2 linked regions of the Homo sapiens genome follow. The protein of the gene in region 1 purifies or fractionates together with the protein of each later gene. This does not show direct contact. Each region holds a gene or a part of one and is shown on either strand. Other genes may lie near its edges.

Region 1 (3,933 bases):
ACTTTAAATTCTGGAAGCCCAGAAAAAACGTGCAGTCAGGGTAAGCCTTATGTTTGGTGCCAGACACAGTAGAGCATTTACAGATGAAAACACAGAACAAGCTACTTCTTATTCCTTTCAAAGCGGTGTGTTTTCTTATCTTTAAAACAAATAACGTTAATTGGGCTTTTAGGATCATGGGTAGTAAAACAATGCATATTTATTCTAGGAGATTTGGAAAATAGAGTGAAATATGAAACTCACCCATAGCAGTGAGGCATTCCTTCCTCCAGCTATTCTGTTCCTCTTACACACACGTGTTTTGTTTTGTTTATGGAATTGTGATCTGTGCGTGCATTGTTTTATGACCTGTTTCCCTGCATTCTTAAGTCAGATGTAGTAGATGTAGTAGACAGCTTCCATGAACTTTTCTTTCCAACCTTTGCTTTCAGTGGCTTTATAGCATTGTGGCTGTGGAAATAACTGATTTATTACTATCCTGTTCTTTGAAATGTTGATTTTCAATTTTTCCATACAAATACTATCACAGTAAACATCCTTGTACATATAGCCTTGTATGTATGTAATCCTTGGGATTAATTCCCAGCAGTCAAAGGCCATGGATATTTAAAAACTTTGGATAGTGTCAAACTGTCCTCTATCACTTATGCCAAGTTAGACTCTTTTATTTTTTTGAATCCTAATGAGAATGGACATTTTTTCTCATGTTTATCATTTATTTGTATTTCTTCCTGAATTGCCTCTTTATAAGAAAATTGTAAACACTAGTGATTTTGACTTTACGTCTTGCAGATATGTTTTCTCATGTGGTTGTTTTGCTCTTCGTTATTGTTTGGGGGTATTTCTGGATAGCAGCACCTTTTCTGTTCTAGTGTCTTCATACAGTTTGGAGCAAGAGTCGAATGGCGAGATTGAGCACGTGACCAAGCGGGCCATCAGCACCCCCGAGAGTGAGTAACTGATCGGAACACGTGGGCTTCTCCTCAGTCTCTCCTGCATTCGTGATGTGTTTGCTAGAGTCGCAGTAAAACTCCTTCCGGTGCAGGATAGTTCTGATGGTCAGAACCATGAGTGCATTGCTGAGGTGGAGTATTTCACAGTGACCACGGTCGCTTGATCCATGAGCACTGACCGAGTATGTTGTTCCAGTGTCGTTACATTCAGTCAGTCAAACACCACAGTGGCCCGCGGAGCAGACAATGCCGTTGAGGCACAGGTAGGTTGGGTGACTGACCCAGTGGTGCCTTCTGGAGGCGGCCCTCCGTGTCTCTGGGCTGTCCGGGTGCACTGGGCGCTGCTGGGTGGGCCTGCTCCCAGGGCGGGCAGACGTCAGCACCAGCAGGTACCATGCACGCTCTGCAACTGCCAAGACCAGAGACCCGGGGACCCCTGCTCGGAGCCTGTGTCTCATTCCCCTCCATGTTTTTTCCTACTGTTTGTGCTTTTCCTTTGATTTCAAAACAGAGGTGAGTTAGGAGAGTTGAGTATTCTTTTCCTATTATCTTGTGTGATAGCTTCATATTGTGTCAAACCTCATAAAAACCATTATTTTGAGAAAACTCTTACAGGAAGAAGAAATGCTTCCTGTCCTAAATCTGTGGAGTAGTGGCTAGGCCCTGCCGCCGTGTCCCTGTGTGCCCCTCGCTCTGCGCCCGGCTGTGCACAGTGCCCTCAGCAAGCTGCATCCAGCCCCGCTCGTCCCTGGCCATTCCACTCCTCACTGTTTCCACAGACCACAGTGCCTGGAACCTGGGAGGTGTCAGAGATCTCCTCCCGGAGACTTCTGGGAGGGCAGAGCTGGGCGCTGAGCCCAGGCCTTCTGGTCCCAACTCTTGTGCCCCTTCTCCAGCCTGTCTCCTAGTCCTGACTGCAGGGGAAGATGAGAGCGTGCTAAGGTGCTCTTCCTGGTAACAGAGCAGCAAGGTGTCCTGCCGTTCGTTTAGTCACTGCTTCAGTCAGCTCATGTGTGTGGAGCACCTGCTGTATTCTAGCTACTTGCTTGTTTGGTTCTGTCACACTGATGCTGTGATCTCTTAGAATAGTTAACAGGTTAGAGGTAATTTTCATCCAGGTCCCCCTTTGAAGGGAGTTTATCCCACCCCCACCCTCAGACGACAACCGAATCATGACGGCATTTGTCATTAAAGGCAGTGGGTAATTTGGGATCCTGCGTCGTGGACAGGTGCGATGTTCTGTGTGTTAGAGCTTGCTGTGTGTTCGATGTTCCTGGCTCAGGAGTGCCAAGAGCTTCTATTTTGGCAGTGAGGTGCCATATGCTGAAGAAACGGGGAGAACGCATCTCATTTTCGTTGTGCTCATCCTGAGTCCCTGATGTCAGTGTTGGGTTGTTTCCTAGCAGCTCGTGTTTCTCCACAGGGCAGCCTGGCGTGGAGGGTTCATGCCGCCCTCATCTGCCTGTGTGGAGCCACGCTTTGTGCTGGAAATCAGGCGCCCGGTGTCATTGAGTTGGTAGAGTACTTGTTCTTGCTCCAGGCTCTTGGACATAATATTCCTGCTGATGCAGTCTCTGTCCGTCTCTCTTTATACTGAACCAGGAAGAAATGCCTGGAGGTCTCCCCTTCCTGGGAGAACTGTTAGATAGTTTAAAAGCACTCAGTTCTGTTTTCTCTGTGGTTTATACGTCCAGATTCTTTTTGGCAACTTTTAGTTTAGGTGGGGGAGACTGTCAGGAAGTGTCTCAGCTCTTCAAAGCTGGCAGGAAAGATGCCACCCAGTTCAGCACCAATTCACAGTGGCTTTGCTAAATGGAAATGAAAATTAGTCAATTTTCAGAGCGAGGATTTTAACTGAAAATCTGTGGGGGTTTTAGCAAGTCCCTGTTACTGTTACCATTCGGGTGGCACAGACGCTGCTGCCTTCGATTCTACGCACAGTGCATGGGGGACGTCAGAGCCCCCGCACCCGGGCTTCTGTAAAGATGGGAGACTAATTTCCTGGAGTGCATATGGGCTTCCAAACAGGAAGAGCAGTGTGTGTGTCAGGAAGGGAATTTCATGTGACAGCACAAGGAGAGACTTCACCGAAACAGAATAAGCAGATCTAGCAGTGATGAGGAATTCTCTACCATCGTCTATTAGTGACACTCAAGTAGCCATCGGGTACACAGCTGCAGTGCGCTGATGAGCTTTGAACTGTAAATGGGAAGACACAGTCCATACTCAAGACACCAAGTGGAGAACGGGGAGCGCTCTGAAGCTGCCTCCTCGCATGTGCTTGCAGAAGGGCAGCAGGTTCAGTGGTACCAGCAAGCAGCTGCCCAGCCCGTGCTGTTCCCGGGAGTGTGCTGGTGGCAGCTTATGCACTGGGTACAGCACCACCCAGGAGGGGCGAGGCTGCACCACCCAGGAGGGGCGAGGCTGCACCACCCAGGAGGGGCGAGGCTGCACCACCCAGGAGGGGTGAGGCTGCACCACCCGGGCCTCCAAGACAGGGTGGCATGTGTAGGCAGATGGGGCGGTGGGGGGGGGGGTGCAGAGAAGCATAATGTGCAGACAGGGCCTGCTGAGGAAGAGGACGCAGGAGGGTGGACGTGTTTGTGCACGCGTGCACCTGAGCCTAACAGGTGAGTCTGTAAAGGCAGCTTGGGACCAGCTGAGACTGAGGGTGGACTTCAGGCTCTCCTAGGAACACAGCGATTGAGGTGTCTTGAAGCAGGGCAGTAAATTTACCAGCTTCTTGATGAAACATAACTCCAGTGATGCAGGGATGATACTGCTAATAAATGACAGTGGCTGCTAACATCTCTTGAGCACTGCCCTTGCAGCCAGCACGATGCTAAGCACTCAACGTGGATAACCTCATGTAGTCCTGGCAGCCCCCCAATGAGGTAGCTATGTTTTTATACCCACTTAAGAGATGAAGAAACCTGAGGGTCTCAGAGCAGCTCACACAGCTGGTGAGACACTGAGCCAG
Region 2 (3,600 bases), on another chromosome or scaffold:
CACTTTAGGAGGCTGAGGCAGGCAGACTGCCTGAACTCAGAAGTTTGAGACCAGCTTGGGCAACATGGCGAAACCCCATCTCTACCAAAAAAAGAAAAAAGAAAAAATAAAAACAAAAAAATCCCAGCAACAATAATAATAATAATAATTAGCCAGGTGTGTTGGTGTGTGCCCTGTAGTCCCAGCTACTCATGAAGTGGAGGTGGGAGGATCAACTGAGTCCGGAAGGTTGAGATTGCAGTGAGCCGTGATCACACACTGCACTCCACCCTGGGTGAAACAGCCCATCTCAAAAAACAGTTCATCATAAGCTGAAAAAAATCAGATCTGCTATTACACGAATTTTAAAAAGTGCACACGTAAAAGGACTGAGTACAGTAATAAATACCTGTGAACCTACCTCCCAACTTAAAGCAGGATACTAAAAAGTCAACTTCAATGAATTAATATGCCTAATTTAATAAATTCAACCCTGGTGATCAACGGGATGACAGGTGTCACAGCCAGATAGTCCTCACATTGGATAAGTTCACCACATAATTCCTTTTTTTGTAGAGATGGGGTCTTGCTATGTTGCCCAGGCTGGTCTTGAACTCCCAGCCTCAAGTGATCCTCCTGCCTTAGCCTCCCAAAGTGCTGGAATTACAGGCATGAGCTAACACATTCAGTCACACAAAACAATATTTAGAGATTTTTTTTCACTTCAGTCTTCATGTTTCTCTAGGAAAAGAGAAGGGCTTTGACTTAATGGTTAAAAACTAATATAAAAATTGGTAATATCAATCAAGGCACTTACATATAATATTGACAAACATGATTCTTTTTTCTAAATATTTCATTTTCCAAGGTAAGAAATTCGATAGCTATGTTTTTCTCTCCTTCTAAGGCATCCTTTTCCTTTTCCACCATCTTTACCCTGTTTAACTACAGAAATTAAAAGTTTAAAGACTGAATACACACTTCATATGTACAATATGAACTTAAAATATGCAAACATTAGATAAAAACAGTTAATAAGGAGAATGTTCATCTTAAATGTTAAGATATAAATTTCAATATAACACTTCTTCATTAAGTATTATAACATGAATATCTGACTTACTAAAATTTGTTAGATCATAAATGAAACATTCTGATTTACAATGAAAGTCTACAGATGATTCACCTTCTCTCCTCTGTGTTCATTTAATATTTCAACTCTCCGACACAAGACTTTAATAGGTTCATTTAGCCGTCCACAACCAATTATATCTTCTAAATATTCAAGCATACCCTCATCGTGTTCAGTCTGGCCTTTTGGTTTCATCATAGCAATTTGTTCAACTTCACCCTTTAAAAAAAAGTTATATTTCATACTCACTGTGTATGTTTAGCTAAATCAATCTTAAGTGAGAATTGGGAGCAGTTAAATAATAAAGCCAAGAGTAATAAACATCTAAATAATGTACAGTTAGTAGTGCAATGATTTAATAAGGTATAAATAAAAATGTTATTTTCACTGGTATTCCTAAGAGTTTTAATTTTACACAGGGAGATATGAAACATGAATTTATATTCCCTTAGATAAATCCTTATAAAAGTGTAATATACACCCACTTACACACACTCATTTCCCCAACTAGAATGTTCAATATAAATAAATAAAACTTGTTTCTTTAAGTAAAATTTAGGAAAGCTTTCACTTAATCTGCAATCTGATTATAGTGGAAACATTATCAATTGTTAATAACACAATTGAAGCTCCTGTTCTAAAACAAAGAATTTTCAAAAACACTTGCATGGTTAAACTGTGTTAGGAACCCTGTCCCAAAGTAGTATTACCAACTTTCTCTACAAACATGGTTTTTAGGAGTTCCTTAACAAGTAATGGGTTTCAAAGGTAGTCAAAAACTTACATGTTCAGTTTTCTAAAAACAAGAGCCTTTGACAGAAAAGGATATTACCTATTTCTCATGGTAATAACAGAAATCAAACAGACCACCTTGACTAGAGAAAACTAATGGCACTGGTACATAAGACATCAGAAAACTTTCAGTTTGTAATCACTAATATAACAACTTTGAACTGTAATTAAAATCTTAGATTAACTTTACATATTTGCATTTATGCAGTTTAATTATGAAGAGTAAAGAGAAAAAAAATCCATAATAAGTAACCATCAAGGCTGACTGCTAGGCAGTCATTTAGTTTGATGGTGGAGAGAAAATTGTGTCTGAGTATGTTCAGGCCAAATGCTGCTACGTTATAGGAGTAGCTTGTTTGTACTCTAGACTATTACAATGGAAGAATAGGTACAGGCAAATGAAAAAAGATATACCTCTTATTTTCAACAAAATAGCAAAGACGAAAAAAGTCAACAAAAAGAATTACACATTAAAAATAGTATATTGTTTTCTTAATTCAAATATCTTAGTGATTCCTATTTCCTAAGTGAATACAGGTGAACCTTAAAAATGTGGGGTAAAACTTACTAATGAGAGCATCATAATTCACCAAAAGCCTCAACATAATTACAAAAAGTAAACAATTCAATAACAGTGGACAAAACAGCTTATTTGAAAATCTACTCATTAAGAAATAATTTTATTTGCATAAATCACTTTTCGATACTTCTGACAGTCTATAAGCACAATGATTATCAAAGTAAAACTGTTACCCCAAAAGTTATTTTCCATAACATTCATTATATTATGTATGAATCGGTATATAAGTGAAAATATGTAGATATTTATATAAAGTATTTTATTCTGCTTTCAACTGTTAGTTCTCTCTAAATGTTTGCAGCAAGAGTTTAAGTTTTAGACAGGATTGAAGCCTGGAAAAATGCCCAAACCTTTGGATTACACAGGATGAACGTTAAGTCACTGAGGAAGCCAAGAGTCTTATTCAAGTTTGTATCTACGTAGGGTTTATCAACAGTGGCACTACTGACATTTTGGGCTGGATATTCTTTGTTGTGGAGAGCTATGCTGGGCATTATAAGATGCTTTAATAGCATTTCTGACCTTCACCCACTAGACACCAGTAGCATCCCCACTTCTACCAGCTATAACAACCGAAACTGTCTTCAGACGTTACTGAATGTCCTATGGGAAAAGGGGCAGAATTACTGTCAGCTGAGAACTACTGATCTAGAGGCTGCAGTTTGTTTGTTCACTCATTTATTATTTTTTTGAGACAGGGTCTTGTTCTGTCACCTAAGCTGGAGTACAGTGGTGTGGTCTCAGCTCACTGCAGCCTTGACCTTTCAGACTCAAGCGATCCGCCCACCTCAGTGTCCCAAGTAGCCGGGACTACAGATGCACACCACCACACCCAGCTAATCTTTAAAAAAAAATTTTTTTTGTACACATGGTGGTCCCTCTATGTTGCCCAGGCTGGTCTCGAACTCCTGGGCTCAAGCGATCCTTTTGCCTCAGCCTCCCAAAATGCTGGGATTAAGGGCATGACCCACCATGCCTAGTCTAGAAGTTGTAGTTTAAATCCTGTGGGTTAGTGTTTATCATCCAAATAAAAAACAATATCTGACAATTAATATTCTACCCAATTCAAGGAGAATATCTGAACACTTATTTTAAGAAAATGAAAAACCATCCCAAA

The links.
Region 2: the proteins of NCAPD3 (region 1) and SMC4 purify together in Homo sapiens (co-immunoprecipitation; 3 studies listed by BioGRID and IntAct, with this or other methods). This does not show direct contact.

What each region holds. Positions count from the first base shown.
Region 1 is NC_000011.10:134,154,035-134,157,967, reverse strand, and holds part of NCAPD3 (condensin-2 complex subunit D3), read left to right. Parts: coding exon 1-40; intron 41-872; coding exon 873-950; intron 951-3,933.
Region 2 is NC_000003.12:160,409,650-160,413,249, reverse strand, and holds part of SMC4 (structural maintenance of chromosomes protein 4), read right to left. Parts: intron 1,331-3,600; coding exon 1,166-1,330; intron 925-1,165; coding exon 797-924; intron 1-796. UniProt on the Homo sapiens protein: Central component of the condensin complex, a complex required for conversion of interphase chromatin into mitotic-like condense chromosomes.